Homo sapiens: one gene and its partners. The protein of the gene in region 1 purifies or fractionates together with the protein of each later gene. This does not show direct contact. Each region holds a gene or a part of one and is shown in the gene's direction. Other genes may lie near its edges.

Region 1 (4,868 bases):
GAGAAGCAGCTCACTCTTCCTCTTTATTTTGTAATTGGTGCTTAAACAACATTCCTATTTTGAGATTACTATTCCATATAAGAAAGCAATCTTGTTTAGGAGTAACTATTTTTTCTTCTCTAGCAAGGAGGAAGTTGCATTTCTGCCTGTGGAAATGATCAGCTGTCTCCTCTGGTATTTTAATTTCATGAGAAGGATTCAGAAGAGATGGGGGAGAGAGAGAAGAAACTGTGTTGCTTCTCTCCTATTAGTAAAACTCAGTTCCTGCTGATCACTTTAGAACAAGGCACAGCAAAAAGGTTCAAAGTCCTCTGCTGAACCTATGAATTTTTCTACTTATTAGCATTGCTTGGGTTGAAAAAAAAAATGTAGGTTATGGGTCAGAGCCAGAAGAGAAAGGTCAGCATAATTGTCTCTGGGATTGGGGTCTAATTAAAACTTTTGAGATATAGGGACCTGTGCCAAGATGCAGAGGGAACAGACAAGTAATTAAAGTATGGACCTTGCCTGGAAGGAATAGAAGTGGAAGAAACAAGTACATGTAGTTTTTGACAGATCAGGTACAAGATATCCTGCAAGTGAGATGCTGGAGTGGTTAGTTGTCACTTCAGGAATAAGGAGGAGGTGGCATTTCAGTTGGGTCTTGAATAGCATTTCAGACTTTGTGAGAGCAAGGGAGTGCTACAGGCTGAGGAGACAGTGAAGGTGAATGTCAAGCAAGGAAGATAGAGCCACGGCCAGGCCCCAGTGAGTGGGTTGGTACAGATGAAATATTTCTCGTACAAAGTTGGTGGTGATGTAGGAAATCAATCTGGGAAGAAAAGGGCAGGTTGTCAGAGCCCAGACTACCATGGCGTAGGACTCTTATCAGAGCGGAGATGCTGCACAGCAGATCCACATCTTCCCCTCAGGAAATGCCTGGTGCAGATGACCACAGGTTGTTGGAAGGCAGAGACTGGCTTCAGGAAGAGCCTTGACTGGGCTGTTTCAGTAGTCCAGGGAGATGGTGAGAAGGGCCCCTGTTGCAGCCACAGGACAGGGAGTGTGAACCTGCAAACACTGGTGGCTGAGTGGATAGAGGGTAGAAAGAGCATGATCGAAGGACCGGGATGATCATGCCTGGGACGAAGCTAGTGCTGTGGGGTTTCCACATGCGGATGGCAAGGAACTATCAGAAATGTGGACGCGAGGCTAGGGAGAGAGACCAGGAGTAGAGGAAAAGATAGGGAAAGGATCCATATACAAGTGATGGCTAAAACCCCAGGAAGGGCTGCCGTCAGTTTGGAGGAAGTGGGGAATGAACAGTGAGATGGCTGGAATGGCGGGGGGAGGGCAGTGGTGTGATTTCTGTTCTGTTTTGTTGGGGTAGGACAGACTTGAGCATCTTTATGGGAGTAAGACTTCTAAAACTACTGTGTACAGAAATAGGGATTAATGGCTCAGTCTGGGTCCTAAAGATAGGGGAGGGATTATAATCAAAGGCAGAGGCAGAAATGCAGGGTTTGCCTTGGAAAGGAGGGAGGAGATCTGTGAAGAGGATGAGAACATGTGACATGGAAGGAGGACAGTTGGAGTTGGTTATGGTGAGGGTGACGTATTTGTCTCAGTCAAGTGAAGTAGGGTACAGTTCAAGGAGTGGGGTCGGGAGCTTGAAGTCGGTGAAAATGAAATAGTGACTTGAAGCAGGTCACAGAGTCAACTAAAAGCCAAGCAGAGTCTCCGTGGGTCTTGGCAAGGGCTCCTGCAGACTGGTCCTGCATTCATTTGAATAATCTGATACTGGAAGCTACTCTTTATTTTCTGTCCTATTAGGTGTAGATCAGAAACAAATTGAAGAACAAAAGGAAGAAGAAAAAATACGGGAACAGCAAGTGAAAGAACGAAGGCAGAGAGAAGAAAGAAGGCAGAGTAACCTACAAGAAGTTTTAGAAAGGGAACGAAGAGAACTAGAAAAACTGTATCAGGAAAGGGTAATAAGTATGACTTGATTCTCTGAACTGGTTGCTCCATTGTACACCTTTCGTAAGTACATTGAGCTCAGGGAGGGGAGTCAATTGGTGTACAAAGTCAGAGGTGCGGCAGATGCCTTAAAAGGCATCCCTGTCCTCTCCTTGTCTTAAAAGCAGTGGGAAAGGCTGCACAGAATGTGAAGCTTAGGAGTTTTGTAGTAAAGGATAGTTTTTGAAGGTAATTTTTGTACATTCTCATCTGATCCTTAAAACAAGCCTGTAAAAAAGGTAGACTGTGCTTTGCTGCAGAACTTTGCTTTGAAAACAGGGTTTAAAGAAGAGACTGTCAGTGCCAGCTAGCTGGGACTAGAACCCAAGGGAGGAGTGGCTGCCAGTTCACAGTTGCTTCCAGGGGCACACACTCCCTCCCTCCTTCCTCTATTTCTCTTCTTGCCTTCTGTGTCCCAATTCTAGTCCTAGCAGATGGATTACTCTGTCCACTTAACACACCTGCTAAGTCTTGCTTGAATTACTCTAACATATGAATGTTCCTTGGACTCTTGGTTAATTCAAGTCCAAAGCACAGGACACTTGCCAATTAATACCTTCCTTCATTGAGATGACATATTTGTCTTCCTTTGATGATAGCAATGACTTCAATTTTAAAAATTAGTCCTCTGGCATACAGGCTGTACTTGAAGGATCGGGATTAATATTAGTGCATTTTTAAAACACTTAAAAGTTTTACAAATGTATTTGTGTATTTTCTGTTTTGGTGCCTGTTTTATAGAAGATGATTGAAGAATCACTGAAGATTAAAATAAAAAAGGAATTAGAAATGGAAAATGAATTAGAAATGAGTAATCAAGAAATAAAAGACAAATCTGCTCACAGTGAAAATCCTTTAGAGAAATACATGAAAATCATCCAGCAGGAGCAAGACCAGGAGTCGGCAGATAAGGTGCCAGTGCCATGGGCAGGGCAATCTGTGGGTGGGGGACATCCAGGGCTTCCGTGGCTTAACTTCTTGGGACGGGAATCCGTCTTCTCCATTGAAGACAAAAAGGTGAAAAGTATAGAAAATCCAAAGTTCAAATGGAACCTTGAGTCTTTTAAATATACTATTCTTTTGACAAAAATTCATAGCTTTTTTGCTTAAGGTAAAAGATTTAAGAGATTTTAATTTGTAAAAGTTGGGGTGGCTCATTAAGAAAGAAAAGATCTATCAAATGCATTAATACTGACATTAATATTTTATGTAAGTCTGAAGTATTATGGGTGTTAAATGCATACCCTATAGTTTATTTTGATGTGCTTGCTAAATTTCATGTTTAAAAGTCACCTCTTTTTTAGACTTTTAAATTACATATATATTTCAAAAATGGTTCTTAAAGTATTTCATGAAATTAATGCATATCTAATTTCAAAATTTTCCACCCTCTCCATGTAATCAGAGCTCAAAAAAGATGGTCCAAGAAGGCTCCCTAGTGGACACGCTGCAATCTAGTGACAAAGTCGAAAGGTACCTGTTTTCCCTACACACTTTCATACACAAACTGTTAATTGCTTATTTTGTCAGCCAAGAGAAACAGATGTTTGAGATTGCCTGTAAGAAGTTATTGAATCAGTCAAAATTAGTGACTATAAAAACAATTGAGTTTTTTGACTTGTGAAATTGATCCTGATATAAATTGTAAACTAGGGCAGAAACCCCCCAGGGAAGGAATTGAGAACATTATGAAGATAGCAAATAAACTTGACACAAATTTTTACATTTTAATTTTTATCTTTCCCTAATTTAGTTTAACAGGCTTTTCTCATGAAGAACTAGACGACTCTTGGTAACCATGTTTGCTGCCCAGCTTCTAACTTACATACCGTGAGAAGTTACGTAACATTTACTCCTTTGTAAATGTTTCCCTATCATCAGACAAAACTCAATAAAAATGTGTGTAATCCAATGTGGGTTTTTTTTTCCATAATTAATTTTGATACCATAGTGTGTGAACCAAGAATAATCTAGTCACGTGAAACCTCTTCTCCAGTCATAGTATTTCTCATTCATTATAATAAAAGTAACTGGCTTTTAACCTCCTTATTTTTGTCTTAAATTTATAAATGAGTATAACCTATCTTACTGCTCAACTGCAGGCCTACATTTTGGAAGTATAAGCTGTGTTCTTTCCTCTCCAAAGTTGGGCTGCCACCTGTAAAACAGGAGGTCATTTTTCCTAGCACACTCCTGTTTTGTCCCTGAACATAAAAACAGATTTTTCTAGGCATTAGAAATAGTAAGAAAGATACTGCCTCTGGTCTTTACTTCTGATGTCTGTGGTTTGTATGTATGTGTCCCTCCAAAATTCATATGTTGGAATTTAAACCCCCCCGTGTGATAGAATTAAGAGGTGGCACCTTTTGCAGGTGACTAAGAGTGGGATTAGTGACCTTATAAAAGGGCTCAATGGAACTAGCTAGGCCCTTTTGCCCTTGCACCATTTGAAGACACTGCATTGATCCCCTCTGGAGAACACAGCAACAAGGCACCATCTTGGAAGCCGAGACCGGGCCTTCACCAGACATCGAACCTGCCAGTGCCTTCCTTGATCTTCGACTTCCCAGCCTCTAAAACTGTAAGAAATACATTTCTGGTCTTTGTAAGTTACCCAGTCTAAGGTATTTTGCTATAGCAGCAGGAACAGACTGAGATAGCATCTTTATTATGGAACCTTTGGTCCTCATACTTAATGAATGGGCGTATTTCCTTTGTTTTTAAATGAATGGGCTCCTTCCCTATAATTGACTTCATCTCTTAAAAAATCAAGTTTTACAAGGCAGAACTGGAAAAAAATCTCTACTGAACCCTCTAAAGGGTCCTAGGTTTCGTGGCAGGATCACTATGGGTAATTAAGAGGCTGCTTG
Region 2 (7,758 bases), on another chromosome or scaffold:
GCGGCTCCTCTGCTTCTGGGGTCGCCTCCGCCTCCCCCATGCCTGGCTCCTTCCCGGGGGTGCCTCCAGAGTTGCTGCCCGCCCCGGGATGCTCCCTGTGGAATGGTGCTGTGTTCTGCTGTGCAGGTGGTGGCCTCCCTGCTGCAGGCCCCGGAGACCGCTGCCTGCCCACCTCCGACTCATCCCCAGAACCACAGCAGCCTCCAGAGGACAGGACGCAGGTCTGAGCACAGCTGTCCTTCACTCCATCATGGTTTTTGGCTTTAAGGGCCATGTCTGTGCCAGGGGTGTCCTGAGCTGAGCTTCTCCCAGCCCCTCCTCTGCTCTAGGGGCCACTTAAGCTCAGAGAGGCCACCCAGGAGGTGTCTTCTTGCTCTGATGCATGGTGCTGGCTGCCTCTTGGGGAGCCTTTGCTGGGGTGGATCCAGTTGGGTTTTTGCAGATGTCCTGGGGTGGGGGGCCTTGCATCCTCATCCACAAAAGAGGAGCTTCCGGCTCTGAGGGGTGACCTGACAGCCAAGGCTCCCAGGCTGCTCAATGGTGGGGCCAGGTGGCTGCACTCCTGTTTTCCTGGAGTGGGGCACTGGGAGGAGTCCCCTGGTGGCTGGAGCTGCTCTGGGTTTGAGCAGCTGCAGAGACCGGGTGGGAAGGTCTGAGCCCTGGCCTCACCTTCCTGGGGCTGAATGTCGGGACTGGGGAGCTCCCGCGGCGCCTTTGGGGCTCTGCGGTTGGCCTCCTATGTGGGGGCTGCTCTCAGCTACCAGCAGCCTTGCTGCATCTGTCTCCCTGCTCTTTTGCAGGACGTTCTTGCCCAGGATGCAGCTGGGGACAACCTGGAGATGATGGCCCCGAGCAGGGGGAGCGCCAAGTCCAGGGGGCCACTGGAGGAGCTGCTGCACACACTGCAGCTGCTGGAGAAGGAGCCGGACGTGCTGCCCCGCCCCAGGACCCATCACAGGGGCAGATACGCCTGGGCCAGCGAGGTGACCACGGTGTGCGCCCGCCCTGCACAGTCTGTCCACCCACGCCATTCACACAGAGCATGCGGTGGCTGTGGGGGTTGGGAAAATGGGGATGCCACAGGCTCCTCCTGGCTTTAGTCACAACCCTCCCTCCCAGAGCCCAGCCTCAGCTGCCACCTCTGCCTTTGGGGAACCCAAGTCCTCAGGCTGCCCTGACAGCCCCCGATGCTGGGCTCCTGTCCCACAGGAGGATGACGCCAGCTCTCTGACAGCTGACAACTTGGAGAAATTTGGAAAACTCAGTGCGTTCCCCGAACCTCCTGAGGATGGGACGCTGCTATCGGAGGCCAAGCTACAAAGCATCATGAGCTTCTTGGACGAGATGGAGAAGTCTGGGCAGGACCAGCTGGACTCCCAGCAGGAGGTGGCCCCTCACCAGCCCGCACCCGGCCCCCAGTGGGAGGAGGCCCCTCACGAGCCTGCACCTGGCCCTCGGGGGAGGAGGCCCCTCACCAGCCCGCACCTGGCCCCCAGGGGGAGGAGGTCTCTCGCCAGCCCCCACCCGGCCCCCAGCAGGAGGTGGTCCCTCACCATGTACCCACCTAGTTATGCAGCACCCCCCACGGGTCTCTCAGGGTGGAGGTGGCAGGGCCCGCATTCCCCATACTGCCCCCACCTACCCGCTGCCCCGAGCTGCCTCCACGAGCCCATATGTGTGGATAGTTCAGCCCTCTGGAGCCCTGCTGTCCTCTGGGTTGGTTTGTCCTGGGTGAACACTAGCGGCCAGGCTAAATGGAGCAGTGACGTGAACTTTATTGTCACAGGGCAGGAAGCTGGGCAGCATAGAACTTTTTAAATGGTTTGTTTTTTATTCCTGAGGCCACGGCCCCCATTTCCTGTACTGAGCAATGAAAACGACCTCTGCTGGGCCGCCTGCCACCTGCCCTCCGGCTTCCCACGGGCTCCCGTGTGCAGCAGCCCCTCTGTCCCCAGAGGGCAGGGCCGCAGGGGCATCGTGTCAGGTCCTTGGCTGCCCCCCGTCCTCTGCCGCTTCCGCCTGACGCTCGGCTGTGTCTGCAGGGGTGGGTGCCGGAGGCGGGGCCGGGGCCCCTGGAGCTGGGGTCCGAGGTGAGCACGTCTGTGATGCGGCTGAAGCTGGAGGTGGAGGAGAAGAAGCAGGCCATGCTGCTGCTGCAGAGAGCGCTGGTAACGCTGCTGGCACTGCTAATCCCGGGCCCTGCTAGCCTCCTACCTGCTGAGGCCAGGCCCACCGGTCCTAGCGCTTCCCTCCTCTGCCCACACCCTGCAGGCGCAGCAGCGAGACCTCACGGCCCGGCGGGTCAAGGAGACAGAGAAGGCGCTGAGCCGGCAGCTGCAGCGGCAGAGGGAGCACTACGAGGCCACCATCCAGCGGCACTTGGCCTTCATTGACCAGGTGAGCGGCCCGGGGAGCGCAGAGGCCCGGACCCAGCGCGTGGCTCATGGAGACTTCCAGAGCCAGGGGCTTCCCACTGCCAGGGAGCTTCTTCCTCTGTTGGGTGTCACACGGGTGTCCGCTGGACGCATTCCAAGCCTTTCCCATGCCATTCCCAGCCATGCATGCCCTGGAGAGGGCACTCCTGTCTTTATCCAGAGCCGCCCCGTGTGAGTGTAGTGGGGTGTCCTGCCGGCCCCTCAGCTCAGTCGCAGCCCCGGTTGGCTCCTGTTCTGAAGAGAAGAGACCTAGAGTTGGTCTGGGGTGTGTGAGAATAGGGGCCTCCAGGGCTGCTTGATAGTTGTCACAGGTGTGTCCTGACCTGGGGTCTGGCCTGGGGCCGGCAGTGAGGCTGGTGTGGTCCTGACACCCTTTGGCAGACAGTGAGCCTCCTCCAGGGCTGGGTGATGGCCTCGGCAGAGCTACCCTCATCCCAGGAAGACCCTGACATCACTGCAGGGGGTGGGCTGGGGCTTCTCTGACATTCGCCGGGTCCCCCAGCTGAGGACAGGACGGCGGATGCAGGCCTGGGCCCGTGTTTGCACACGTGCCCCCCCACTGGCCCCAGGGTCCATCCACAAACCTAGGAGGGGCAGCCCCAGGGGAGGGCTGCTGTTAGCCTCCCTCGGAGGCTGGGAGGGTCTCCTCCATCAGGGGTCCTGCTGGGCTGGGGCCTTGGTGTAGCACCTCACCTCCGGTCCCCAACACAGCTGATTGAGGACAAGAAGGTCCTGAGTGAAAAGTGCGAGGCTGTGGTGGCCGAGCTGAAGCAGGAGGACCAGAGATGCACCGAGCGTGTGGCCCAGGCACAGGCGCAGCACGAGCTGGTGAGGCTTTGCTCCCTACTGCACGGCGTCCCAAGCCCGGCTCACAGGCCAGGCTCAGCTGGCACAGCCCCCAGAACAGGACCGGACTTGGAGTCCTCATTCCTGTCTCGGTGTGTCAGGGCCACAGCGGTGGGTGGGGCTGTCTGGGGGAGCACCGTGGCACCGAGCTGGTCCACTCCTGCCTCTCTAGCTGCCAGGCTCTGGGGCGGGGCCGTGGGCCTGCTGTCACAGATGTGGACGCACAGTCCCTGCCCGGCCACAGCACGGTAGCCGTGGACCCAGGAGCCTCTGCCTGGTCTGCCCCACTGCCAGGTCCTTGGGCCATGGGACCTGCTCTCTCTACTGACCAGGTGTCGGTGGAGCATTGACTCCCCGCCCCTTCCCGCTGTGTGAGCTCCCTGGGGGCCTCAGCCTCCCTGGCTATGCTTCCCACCAGCTTGGGCAGTGATGGTCCCGAGCCCAGGTTCTGGAGTGGGGCTTGGCACTGGCATTTTAAAATCCCTGCACGTGACTGTGGCTGACAGCCGGGGTTGAGGACTGCCAGTCCCATGGAAGAATGCAGGCTCTGGGGCCGTCCCGACAGGCAGCAGCACCCCTCTCTGGGGCAAGGCCTCTGCAGGCTGATGGCTGCCCTCCCATGTCTCAGGCCACCAAGGTGTGTGGCAGGGTGGGCCTGGGCCTCCAGCCTGGCCCCGGGCGCTGGGGAGGGCAGCAGTGGCTCTGTCTCGGGGCAGCACACCCAACCATGAGTGCCGGCCTTGTGCTGGTGGACCTGGAAGCCCGGCCCTGACTGTGCCCACAGGGTGGCAAAGGGACGGGGGTGTCCTTCGTGTCGTTTCCTCCTGCCCTGTTCTGCTCGTAGGAGATTAAAAAACTCAAAGAATTAATGAGCGCCACCGAGAAAGCCCGCCGGGAGAAGTGGATCAGTGAGAAAACCAAGAAGATCAAGGAGGTCACTGTCCGAGGTGGGCCCTCCCCTCCCATGAGCCGGCCAGGTGTGGGGTGGGTGCTGCGGCCAGGGCTTCTTTTGAGAGAGCCATAACTTCAGGCATTCATGTAGTCCGAGACCTTCCTGGGCAGAGGTGAACACTCATGCCCCAACCACCCCCGTCACGGCCTCCGCTGCGGCTTCTGCCGTGACCCGGGGGGCAGGTGGGCTCCACACAGGAGCCTGGCCCAGCCCCCAGCATCTAGGCAGTTGCCTGAAACGAGGGGGCTCAGTGCCTCACTTCCTCAGGGTTGGGCTAGGGGAGATTGGGAGTTTGTGGACGACTGTGGCACGTGGGCCCTGCCACGGGAAGCAGAGTGAGCCACAGGAGGAGGCAGGGGCAGGCAGGCGGATGGGGCAGGAGGCTGGTGGGTGTTGTGGTCTGAAGGGGCCTCGGACCCTTGGGTGATGTGCAGGGCTCCCCGAGGCCTGGTCCTCTCGCTCTGGACACCTGCCAGGGTGCCTGGGAGCCGTCAGTGGTAGCACCAGGAGTGTCAGGAGCCCTGAGCCCCACAGGCTGGGAGAGGCGCCGTGGCCCTGTGGGGGTCTCTTCCCCACCTCGTGGGCGTCAAGACTCAGCTGTGCTTCGGGTTGGATCCAAGGAGGCCCTGGGTGGGCGGGGTCCCCTCTGGGCCTGAGACAGGCTGGTCTTGTGCCAGGGTTGGACTTCCCGGGCCCACCCTAGCTGGACGTGGCCCTAGCTGGTGCCCCGCCCCCAGGTCTGGAGCCCGAGATCCAGAAGCTGATTGCAAGGCACAAGCAGGAAGTGCGGAGGCTCAAGAGCCTGCACGAGGCGGAGCTGCTGCAGTCGGATGAGCGGGCCTCGCAGCGCTGCCTGCGCCAGGCCGAGGAGCTGCGGGAGCAGCTGGAGCGGGAGAAGGAGGCGCTGGGCCAGCAGGAGCGCGAACGTGCTCGGCAGCGGTGGGTGGTGGCCCCAGGCCGGTGGGGCCAGGACCCTCAGGGCGGGGAGTCGGAATCCTCGAAGGCTGGAGTGGAGTTCCCATGTAGAGGTGGGCGAGGGTCTTAGTGCAGCATGCAGGGAGGACGCAGGGCCCTTGGCCCTGGAGTGGCCCTTGGGGGCCCAGCCTCAGCCGGGCCAGTGTCCTCGGGCTTGTGTCTGCAGTTCATGCCCGCCGAGGTCTGCAGGTTCTGCATGGGTGCACGGGTGTTTTCCCAGGGTCAGGGCTGGGAACCCCCACCAGACATCCACTCTTTCACAACTGGCCCCAGAGCAGCAACCCGTGGATAGGCGGCCTCGAGGCCCCTCCAGCTCTGACCTTGGGGCCCAGGGACGGTCTCTCTCATTCACTCCCTTGGCCTGGGGTCTGAGGGGTGACTGCTGCTCTTGCGTCCTGAGCCCTGGGGGCTGGGGACGTGCCCAGTGGTGGTCAGGATCTGCGGGCCACAGGGGGCAGTGGCAGCCCCTCCTGCACTGTCTGCGCCACCAGGACAGCCTGGAAGCCACCCTCTCCTATCCACCCTGTTGCCTGTCGTGGCTGGTCCTCCCCAGATGCAGCTTGGCTGGTCCCCCAGTCTCTCCTCGAAGGTGGGGTCAGGACGAGGCCCTGGCGCGAGCTTGCTCAGGTCACGGAGCCAGGCACCTGGCACCCTCAGGCCGGAGGCAGGGGAGGTGGATAAGGCCCCACGAGGCACCTGCCTCCCGCCCTCCATGCCCGTGGGGCAATGCTGAACAGGGTGAGGCCGGCACACGGGCTGAGGGAAAAGGGGGCCTGGACGCGGCTCCACAGCCACTTCCCAAAGTGCCACGAGGGCCTGGAGCTCAGGGAATTGCTGCGCTTGGCTGATGGGCAAGTTCCTCGTGGCCTTGCCTGCCCCCGGGCGGTGGCTTTGAGGGGCCTTGACTGCCGAGGGGGAGGGGCAGGGCCCCGGAGGGCTGCTCTCCAGCTGTGAGTCAGGCCTGTGGTCGGCCCGTGCCCCTGCGGTGGGTGGGTCCTGGGACCGCCCGTCCCGGCCCCCGAGAGCCAGTCCTGACCGTCCCGCAGGTTCCAGCAGCACCTGGAGCAGGAGCAGTGGGCGCTGCAGCAGCAACGGCAGCGGCTGTACAGTGAGGTGGCTGAGGAGAGGGAGCGGCTGGGCCAGCAGGCAGCCAGGTGCCGCCCGGGGGCACCACGCCCTCTCCCAGGGACCCCTCGCTGGCTGACCCCTCCCCCCCGCCCCCTCACCCGCTGACCTCTCCCATCCCTGACTCCTTACTCGATGACCCCTCACCTGCTGACTCCTCCCTGGCCGCAGGCAGCGGGCGGAGCTGGAAGAGCTGAGGCAGCAGCTGGAGGAGAGCAGCTCTGCACTGACCCGAGCCCTGAGGGCTGAGTTTGAGAAGGGCAGGGAGGAGCAGGAGCGCCGGCACCAGGTCTACCACCGGAGGGCTGTGCTGGGCCTGGCCAGGGGGCTGCACGGGGTGGGACTGACTGGCCTCTTATGTCCGCCCCCCAGATGGAGCTGAATACCCTGAAGCAGCAGCTGGAGCTGGAGAGGCAGGCGTGGGAGGCCGGCCGCACCAGGAAGGAGGTGGGGGCCTGGGCACCCAGGTGGGCAGGGGTTGGGGGCTGCCCTGCGTGGGCAGGAGTTGGGGGCTGCCCCAGGTGGGTTTTGCTGCTGCTGTGGCATCCTGGGGGCTCGTTTCTGGGAGTCACATCTGGCTGCTTGGGGTTGTTGTCTGAACTGACGCTGAGTGTGTTGCTTTCAGCCCATCTTTTGCGTGGGCTCTGGAAGGATCAAGGGTGCCTGGAGCGCATCCTCTGTGGTCCGAGAACAGGCGTTGCCCCTCTCGCTAGGGGCTGCTACACCCCTGCGCCCCACGACCAGCCCACTGACACTCAGATGTACCGAGAGGGACACGCACAACAGGGGCTCCCCCCTTAGCCTCTGGGGCCTTCTGTGGGGGGTGGACTCTGCCACGGTGACAGTCCCACACACATTCTCACCACCCATGCCCGCCGCGAGGCTACAGTCCAGGCTGACCGTGCCCGTCACCTGGTTTCACACCCTGGTGGGCTGGGATGTCACCGAGCAGCCAGGCAGGCTTTGGCAGTGGATGCCTCTGGGCCCAGTAGCATGCTCCCGACGTAGCCCTGTGGGGCCCAGGGCTGGACAGATGAAACTCTGGGAGTTTTCAGAGGCTTCCAGGAGGCTGCCAGCTTAGGCTCTGAATGCCTGGGCTTGGGGGCCCAGGCCCCGCCCTCAGCAACACGCAAGTCCAACTTTCCCATCCCATCTGGTAGCAGAAGGTGGCCTCAGGTTGTCATGGGCTGTGGGTCTCTGAGGGAGGGGACCGTGGGCTGTGCATCATGACGATCTCTGGTACGCCTATGCCCACACTGGGTCCTGACAACAGGACGTAGCGCACCCCTGGACAGGGGTCTGGAGAGGGGGAAGGCCCCTTGCTCCCCTGTGGCTCAGAGCCTGGAGCCCCCCAGGACCCCCTGAGGCTGGCCCTGGCCCCGCGGGCCGGCTCCGGGTGGCAACCCCCAGGCAGCGCATGTCCCC
Region 3 (8,274 bases), on another chromosome or scaffold:
GCAACACCCTTCAACAACCTCCACGTGTTCTGCTATCCAGAAGTTCTCCCAACCCAGTTCTCTTGGGTTTTTATGGGACACTTTATTACATAGGTGTGATTGAACACCGTGTAGAAATGTGATTGGACAGGCCAGACGTGGTGGCTCACGCCTGTAATCCCAGCACTTTGGGAGGCCGAGGTGGGCGGATCACCTGAGGTCGGGAGTTCGACACCAGCCTGACTAACATGGAGAAACCCCATCTCTACTAAAAATACAAAATTAGCCAGGTGTGGTTGTACATGCCTGTAATCCCAGCTACTTGGGAGGCTGAGGCAGGAGAATTGCTTGAGCCCGGGAAGCAGAGGTTGAGGTGAACCGAGATCGTGCCATTGCACTCCAACCTGGGCAACAAGAGCGGAACTCTGTCTGGAAAAAAAAAAAAATTAGCCAGGCATGGTGGTGCACACCTGTAATCCCAGCTACTTGGGTGGTTGAGACAGGAGAATCGCTTGAACCCAGGAGGGAGAGGTTGCAGTGAACGGAGACTGTACCACTGCACTCCAGCCTGGGCGACAGAGCAAGACTCCGTCTCAAAAAAAAAAAAAAAAAAGAAAGAAATCTGATTGGACAGAAAGTGCCTGATCTAAACCCAGCAAAGCCTGTCTGCTCAGACTTTTCTTGGGCTCTCTGTGCAGCATTTCTTCCTTGAGGGTAGCAGGCAGAACCCTTTCTGGAATGAGGGTCTTTTGACCCACAGTCAGATTAGAGTCCTGCTTGGGGCAGGTCAGAGGTGGACAGGAGAAGATCAGAGAGGGAGATTCTGTTTCCTGAGGCCTAAAGTGCCTCAACATTATAATGAGGTGAATGGGAGTTAGATGCCAGGAATCGTGGAGATGAAAATCAATACCTATATCATAACACCACAGGAGTGCTTTTTCTGAGGGACTTAAAAATACCACCTATGGAATTTAGTTAATCCCCAAAAATCTCTTGAAATGCTGGCCAGGTATTCAGTCACTGTGGTTTTACAGAGTAGAGAAACAAGATAGGACCTTTTCAAGGTTACAGAACAGATATGTGTCCCATAATCAAAAATTAATCCAGTCAAAAATTAATCCAGTTTGGAATAGGAAGAGATTCCTCTAGGTTACAATCACTTTCAAACTTTTCTGATGGCTGATCACTTTAAGAAATACAACAGGTACCAGAACACACATGTGTACCTGAAAGGAAAGTTCTAGAAAACCATACTTCTATGTTTTCTATTTGTTACATTCCATTTCACTGAAAATGTACTCATGGGGATCTACTAATAAATAGATTTCAAAACCTACTATTTGGTTAACCAGCAGTTTAAAGAGCATTATCCTAGACTCTAGGTCAAGATACTCTGCCTGGCCCCCCTTTTTTTTTAAGTCTCAAGAAAAAGTAAGAGAGAAAGAGGAAAGAGAGAGAGAAAGAAAGAAAGAAAAGAAAGAAAGAAAGAAAGAGAAAGAGAGAAAGAGGGAGGGAGGGAGGGAAGGAAGGAAGGAAAGGGAAAGGGCGGGGAGGAAGGAAGGAAGGAGAGAGAGAGGAGGGAGGAAAGGAAGGAAGGAAAGAAGGAAGGAAGGAAGGAAGGAAGGGAAAGAAAAGGCATCTCCCCTTGTCACCAGGCTAGAAATGCAGTGTTATGGTCATGGCTCACTGTAGCCTCCACCTCCTAGGCTCAAGCAATCCTCCTGCCTCAGCCTCCCGAGTAGCTCGGACTACAGGGACACATGCCAGGCTAATTTTTTGTTTTGTTTGCTCGGTTTTTTTGTTTGTTTGTTCGTTTTGGTTTTTTTTGACACGGAGTTTCACTCTTGTCGCCCAGGCTGGAGCACAGCGGCGTGATCTCGGCTCACTGCAACCTCCACCTCCCAGGTTCAAACGATTCTCCTGCCTCAGCCTCCCGAGTAGCTGGGATTACAGATGCCTGCCACCATGCCCAGCTAATTTTTGTATTTTTGGTAGAAATGGGGTTTCACCATGTCGGCCAGGCTGGTCTCAAACTCCTGACCTCAGGTGATCTGCCCTCCTCGGCCTCCCAAAGTGCTGGGATTACAAGCGTGAGCCACCGTGCCTGGCTGTTTGCTCTTTTGTTTTGTTTTGTTTTGTTTTGAGTCGGAGTCTTACTCTGTTCCCCAGGCTGGAGTGCAACCTCTGCACCCCTGGCTCACTGCAACCTCTGCCTCCTGGGTTCAAGCAATTTTCCTGCCTCAGCCTCCCGAATAGCTGGGATTACAGGCCTCTGCCACCACGCCCGGCTAATTTTTGTATTTTTAGTAGAGATGGGGTTTCACTGTGTTGGCCAGGCTGGTCTCGAATTCCTGACCTTGTGATCTGCCTGCCTCAGGCCTCCCAAAGTGCTGGGATTACAAGCGTGAACCACCGCACCCGGCCTTGTTTGCTCGTTTTTAAAGACAGGTTCTCCCTATGCTGCCCAGGCTGTTCCCCCTCCCTTTAAAAAAAATAGTTAACAATTATTGATTGTATATTTCAAAATAGCTAGAATACTTGTAATGCTTCCAACACAAAGAATGTTTGAGGTGATGTTTATCCCAATTGCCTTGACTTGATAATTACACATTGTATATGTGTATCAAAATATCACGTCCCTCCCCATAATTGTGATATATCAATTTTTCTTTCTCTCTTTTTCTTTTCTTTTTTTTTTTTTTTTTTTTTTTTTTTTGAGAAAGGGACTCACTCTGTCGCCCAGAGTGGAGTGCAGTGGTACAATCAGCCGTCCAGGCTCAAGTGATCCTCTCTCCTCAGCCTCTCGAGTAGCTGGCATGCACCATCATATCTGGCTAATTTTTTTTTTTTTTTGTAGAAATGCGTCTCATGTTGCCCAGCTTGGTCTAGAACTCCTGAGCTCAAGCAATCCTCTATCCTCGGCCTCTGGAGTAACTGGGACTACAGGCATGCACCACCATGCCCGGCTAATTTTTTGTATTTATTTTGGAGAGATGGGGTCTTGCATTGCCCAGGCTGATCTCAAACTCCCGAGCTTAAGCAATCCTCCCTCCTCGTCCTCCCAAAGTGCTGGGATTACAGGGATGAGCCACCGCACCTGGCCAATGTATCAGTTTTAAAAACAATAGGCATGGAACCAAAAGTATGCTGGAAGTTCCTCGGAAAGAGGTTTCCTTGCTCTTAGGTGGTTTTTTTTTTTTTTTTTTTTTGAGGCGGTGTCTCGCTCTGTCGTCCAGGTTGGAGTGCAGTAGCGCGATCTCATCTCACTGCAACCTCTGCCTCCCAGGTTCAAGCGATTCTTGTGCCTCAGCCTCCCAAGTAGCTGGGATTACAGGCTCCTGCTACCACGCCCGGCTAATTTTTGTACTTTTTTTTTAGTACAGAGGGGGTTTCACCAGGCTGGCCAGGCTGTTCTCGAACTCCTTACCTCAGTCTCCCAAAGTGCTGGGATTCCAGGCGTAAACCACCGTGCCCTGGCAGCTCTTAGGTGTACTTTTTTTTTTTTTTTTTTGAGACGGAGTCTCACTCTGTCGCCCAGGCTGGAGTGCAGTGGTGCCATCTCGGCTCACTGCAAGCTCCACCTCCCGGGTTCACGCCATTCTCCTGCCTCAGCCTCCCGAGTAGCTGGGAGTACAGGCGCCCGCCAGCACGCCCGGCTAATTTTTTGTATTTTTAGTAGAGACAGGGTTTCACCGTGTTAGCCAGGATGGTCTCGATCTCCTGACCTCGGGATCCGCCCGCCTCGGCCTCCCAAAGTGCTGGGATTACAGGCGTGAGCCACCGCGCCCGGCCACTCTTAGGTGTACGTCTAATCGATGTTTATTATTTAGCCAAGTGTTTGGATCTCACCGGCATTACAACTGGAATCATGCAACCTCACACTCAGTTTAGGGTACATTATTCCCCTGTTCCTTTTCCTTTACTTCCATGGGATGTTGGAGCTTATTCCTTCATTAGTTAGTTCCATAAAAAGCTCCTGGACTCCTTACATGCACTGTGTAAGTGCGAGTGGAAGAGGACAGGCTGGTGACCTTGGTTAAGTCTCTTCAGCGATGGAGGACTCTGTTTCCTTCATTGTAAAAACGGCGTGATCATAAGGAAATAATGCGCTAAGGCGTCACAGTAAGTGCTTAATACAGTGGTTCTCGAGGTGTGATCTCCAGACCGACCAGCAGTACCAGTACCACCTGGGAACTCGATAGAAATGCAAATCCTAGGGCCTCACCCCAGATTTACAGAATCAGAAACTCTATGGGGAGGACTAGCAAACAATCCGTTTAAACAAGTCTTGGAGGTGATGAGGATTCATGCTCAAGTTTGAGAACCGCAGGGTTAATAGGTGGTAACTACTAGCAGTTGGTACTTGAGGCTGCAGAGACAATGAAAAACTCAGCTGGCTAAAGTTAAGCACTAAGGTGCCAGCAGCACCCCACAGGGCTCTCCACTGCCTCAGTCCCCGCCCTCCCTGCCGTCTCACTCAACTGGGCCTTCCGAGAGCGCTCGCTGATTGGTGGAGTCTCTGGTCGACATTCACTACCCACTCAACCGCAGAGCTCATAAACTGAGAGGGGCGGAAGTGGGCGGGGCGAGAGCTGTGCGCCTATTGGCTACAGACCACGCCGCAGGGTGAGTGGGGCGGAGCTGCGCGTGCGCAGGGCCGCGGTGCGGCCCTGGCGGCCGTTGAAAAATGGCGACTGTGGCAGAGTTGAAGGCTGGTGAGTGCGAGCAGGGAGGCCTCCACATGGGAAGCGTCGGGCCTTCATCTTGTGGAAAGGATGGGATGGGAGGAGAGCGCGCGGAACACATGGGTTGGCTTTTACAGGCGTCATTCTTCGGTGTGAGGGCCTGCGGGGAGCGTCTGGCTGCTGTCTTGGCCCGTGCGCGGGGAGCTCTTATGGGGAAGAGGTTGCCCACTGGCGAGTTTTAAGCCAGTTTGGAGCTAAAGGAGGAGTTGCGTAATCTTCAGGCATCTAAGAGGCCTACAGGCCTGCATCTTGGGCCCCTGGCTCATCTTCTTGGACCCTGCCGGGGGCTGGAGGACTTGGACCAGGCTTGGCACTCAGGGCTGATGACTACAATTCCCACAACCCCTATTGGGTTAGGCACTGCCCTAAACAATTTGCTTGGTTGTCTCGTTGGGTCCTTACAACAACCTGTTAAGTAGCCCTCCCCTCCTTGCTTTTTTTTTTTTTTTTTAAAGAGAGGGTCTCTCTGTCGCCCAGGCTGGAGTGCAGTAGCGCGATCACAGCTCACTGCAGCTTCGAACTCCGGGACTCCAGCTATCCTCCCACCTCAGCTTCCAGAGCAGGTGGGAATACAGGGGCTCTTCACTACGCCCGGCTAATTTTTGTATTTTTTGTAGACACGGGGTCTTACTGTCGAACTCCTGGTCTCAAGCTATCCTCCTGCCTTGGCCCCCTCAAAGTGCTGGGATTACAGGTGTGAGCGCCTGGCCCCTTTTTCATCAGAAGAAACTAGAGGCAAAAAGTTTGCTGGCCTGGCCATTCTCCTGTCTTTTCAGGAAAAGATACTCTAAGCTAGTTATGTTTGAGTCATTAATGACATTTGTACGCTGTTTACTTTGAAGCAAATGTCCAGACAAGTAATAGTAATAATAGTTATCATTGAGCCTCATGTGTCAGGCACTACTCAACTCAGCCTGTGTGTTACCTGATTGTAACAACCCTATGCCCATTTCATAGACTGGGAAACGAGGTACTGAGAAGTGAAATAGCTCAAAGTGATTTCACTGGAAAGAGACACAGCATGGGAACCTAGTTGTGACGCACTGGAGCGCCAGGTCTTAATCACTGAGCAAGATTGCTGTCCAAAAAATAAAACCAGTTCCACTTTGCAGGGAACCCAGGGTTTAAACTAGTAATTCTTAGATATTTTAGGGAGGAGACGTGTATAAAAGTGTGTATTTGGGGACAGGGCTGGTGAACAATCATAAAACAGAACAGGCATGCATCTGTCCACAAGAACAGACTTCACGAGTCTACAGATGCTGTTCCCAGGGAAATACACATCACATGTAATATTGCATACATTTTCAGAGGATTTAAAGGTACACTTGGAATGGGCCAAGCACAGTGGCTCATGCCTGTAATCCTAACACTTTGGGAGGATCGCTTGAGCCCAGAAGTTTAAGACCAGCCTGGCCAACATGGTGAGACCCCATCTTTATTTAAAAAATAAAAATTAAAAAAAAGAGCCGGGCATAGTGGCCTGTGGTAGTTCCAGCTACCCCACAGGCTGAAACAGGAAGATAGCTTGAGCCCAGGAGATAGAGGTGACAATGAGCTACAGTGGTGCCACTGCACTCCAGCCTGGGCAACAAAATGAGACCTTGTCTCAAAAAAAAAAACAAATTAAAAAATAAAATAAAAAAGGTACTCTTGAAATATAAGCGAGGTTAAGACCTTTCCGAAGAAGTTTTGATGGCGCAGTGTTCTAAGCATAATAGAGGGAAAGGTAAAATGCTATGGACCTCCAAAAGAAACCCGGTGAAAACTTGTTTGCCAGCCAGTTACCTTACATTTTATGGGCATTTACCTTTTTTAAGCACGATCACGTTTTTCCTTCTTACTTGGTTCTATCTCTGAGAGGTAGAGCTCATTATTTTAGAGAAGGCAACTGAGGCATGGGTTGGTAATCCACCACTGAGGTGCTGATGAGACATGCTAGCTTTCCTCATTCCACTGTCACTAATTCTCGTTTCTCTGTCCAGTTTGAGGCTGTCCTGTGTGCAATACAGAGTAATTGGGACAGGATCCTTGCCAGTGACAAAATCTCTCCATCCAATTTCCAAAGATGGAATTAGAGAATAGGGGTTCAGTTATGATTCTAAGAGTACAATAAGGCTGTACCTTCCTTTTATGGACCTGTTACAAACTCTGATCTGGTGATAACTGTACTTAACCTATCTGCAAGAAGGTTGAAGGGATGCTTTAAAAATGAGGGGAAAGAAAGGTCAAAAGTCAGTGAAGATTCTATCTCTTTAGTCATATGATCCAGGGTTATTGTTGACGTTATTTATTGAAGCTTAGAAAGATCTTATGTCCATACTGACTTGGATAAGCTCCTGGGCTCTCTTTATGGATTTTTGTTATTGTGATGTACTTACTTGGTGCCTTTGGCAGGGTGCAGAACAGTGTTAAACTACATTGATTTCCCAGTAGTGTACAGCAATGTATTATAATCCTTCTAGGTGACACCTACTGAGCTCTTGCTCTGTTCTTGACTCTGTGGATGAGATGTGTTCATTCTCTGAAGTTGTCATTTAGCCAGTAGGAACTGTTTGAAAATAAAAGTTGCAGATCACTACAAGGGATGGTGCCAATTCAGTCCTAAGATCCCCATTATCTATACTAAGTATGTACAGCCAAATCCCATGATCATAACTGCTTTGTCATGGTGACTCTGGCTAATCAGTAAGTTAGATTTCCATTCTGCATACACATCCCTGACTCCTTAAGATGGCATTGATACAGTCACGTGGTAGATTTCTAACTAGGCTTAAAATTTCAGAATCCTACTGTTCTAAGGAATTAACTCATAGTTGTCTTTAAAACAACGAGGCCAGTGGGCGCAGTGGCTCATGCCTGTAATCCCAGTACTTTGGGAGGCTGAGGCGGGTGGATCACGAGGTCAGGAGATGGAGACCATCCTGGCCAACATAGTGAAACCCTGTCTCTACTAAAAATACAAAAATTAGCCAGTCGTGGTATCGCACACCTGTAATCCCAGCTATTTGGGAGGCTGAGGCAGGAGAATTGCTTGAACCAGGGAGCCTGGAGATTGCAGTGAGCCGAGATCGTGCCACTGCACTCCAACCTGGCGACAGAGCGAGATTGTTTCAAAATAACAACAATGAAAAACCCAACACCTTTTCACTCCCTAAAGCGTTGTGGATTATCAAAGGTTTGTGTTTTTTTTTTTGGTTGGTTGGTTGGTTGGTTGTTTTAAACAGAGTCTCACTCTTTCGCCCAGGCTAGAGTGCAGTGGCACCACCTCAGCTCACTGCACCCTCCACCTCCCAGGTTCAAGTAATTCTTGTGCCTCAGCCTCCCAAGTTGCTGGGACTACAGGTGCGTGCCACCACACCCGGCTAATTTTTTGTATTTTTTTAGTAGAGAGGGGGATTTCACCTTGTTAGCCAAGATGGTCTCAATTTGCTGATCTCGTGATCCGCCCGCCTGAGCCTCCCAAAGTGCTGGGTTACAGGCATGAGCCACCATGCCCTGCCATCAAGGTTTTTACACAGTAACCCAACAGACTTCTTTTATGGAATGT

What was found.
Region 2: the proteins of OFD1 (region 1) and CEP131 purify together in Homo sapiens (affinity purification with mass spectrometry; 2 studies listed by BioGRID and IntAct, with this or other methods). This does not show direct contact.
Region 3: the proteins of OFD1 (region 1) and CEP20 purify together in Homo sapiens (co-immunoprecipitation; 3 studies listed by BioGRID and IntAct, with this or other methods). This does not show direct contact.

Annotation. Positions count from the first base shown.
Region 1 is NC_000023.11:13,765,315-13,770,182, forward strand, and holds the end of OFD1 (centriole and centriolar satellite protein OFD1), read left to right. Parts: intron 1-1,812; coding exon 1,813-1,970; intron 1,971-2,739; coding exon 2,740-2,910; intron 2,911-3,403; coding exon 3,404-3,471; intron 3,472-3,751; coding exon 3,752-3,794; 3' UTR 3,795-4,043; downstream 4,044-4,868. UniProt on the Homo sapiens protein: Component of the centrioles controlling mother and daughter centrioles length. Recruits to the centriole IFT88 and centriole distal appendage-specific proteins including CEP164. Involved in the biogenesis of the cilium, a centriole-associated function.
Region 2 is NC_000017.11:81,191,340-81,199,097, reverse strand, and holds part of CEP131 (centrosomal protein of 131 kDa), read left to right. Parts: intron 1-126; coding exon 127-221; intron 222-800; coding exon 801-983; coding exon of another isoform or gene 984-992; intron 993-1,209; coding exon 1,210-1,386; intron 1,387-2,042; coding exon 2,043-2,168; intron 2,169-2,271; coding exon 2,272-2,397; intron 2,398-3,146; coding exon 3,147-3,263; intron 3,264-4,125; coding exon 4,126-4,228; intron 4,229-4,970; coding exon 4,971-5,172; intron 5,173-6,254; coding exon 6,255-6,362; intron 6,363-6,504; coding exon 6,505-6,622; intron 6,623-6,705; coding exon 6,706-6,780; intron 6,781-7,747; coding exon of another isoform or gene 7,748-7,758. UniProt on the Homo sapiens protein: Component of centriolar satellites contributing to the building of a complex and dynamic network required to regulate cilia/flagellum formation.
Region 3 is NC_000016.10:15,884,978-15,893,251, reverse strand, and holds the start of CEP20 (centrosomal protein 20), read left to right. Parts: upstream 1-4,648; 5' UTR 4,649-4,666; coding exon 4,667-4,694; intron 4,695-8,274. UniProt on the Homo sapiens protein: Involved in the biogenesis of cilia. Required for the recruitment of PLK1 to centrosomes and S phase progression.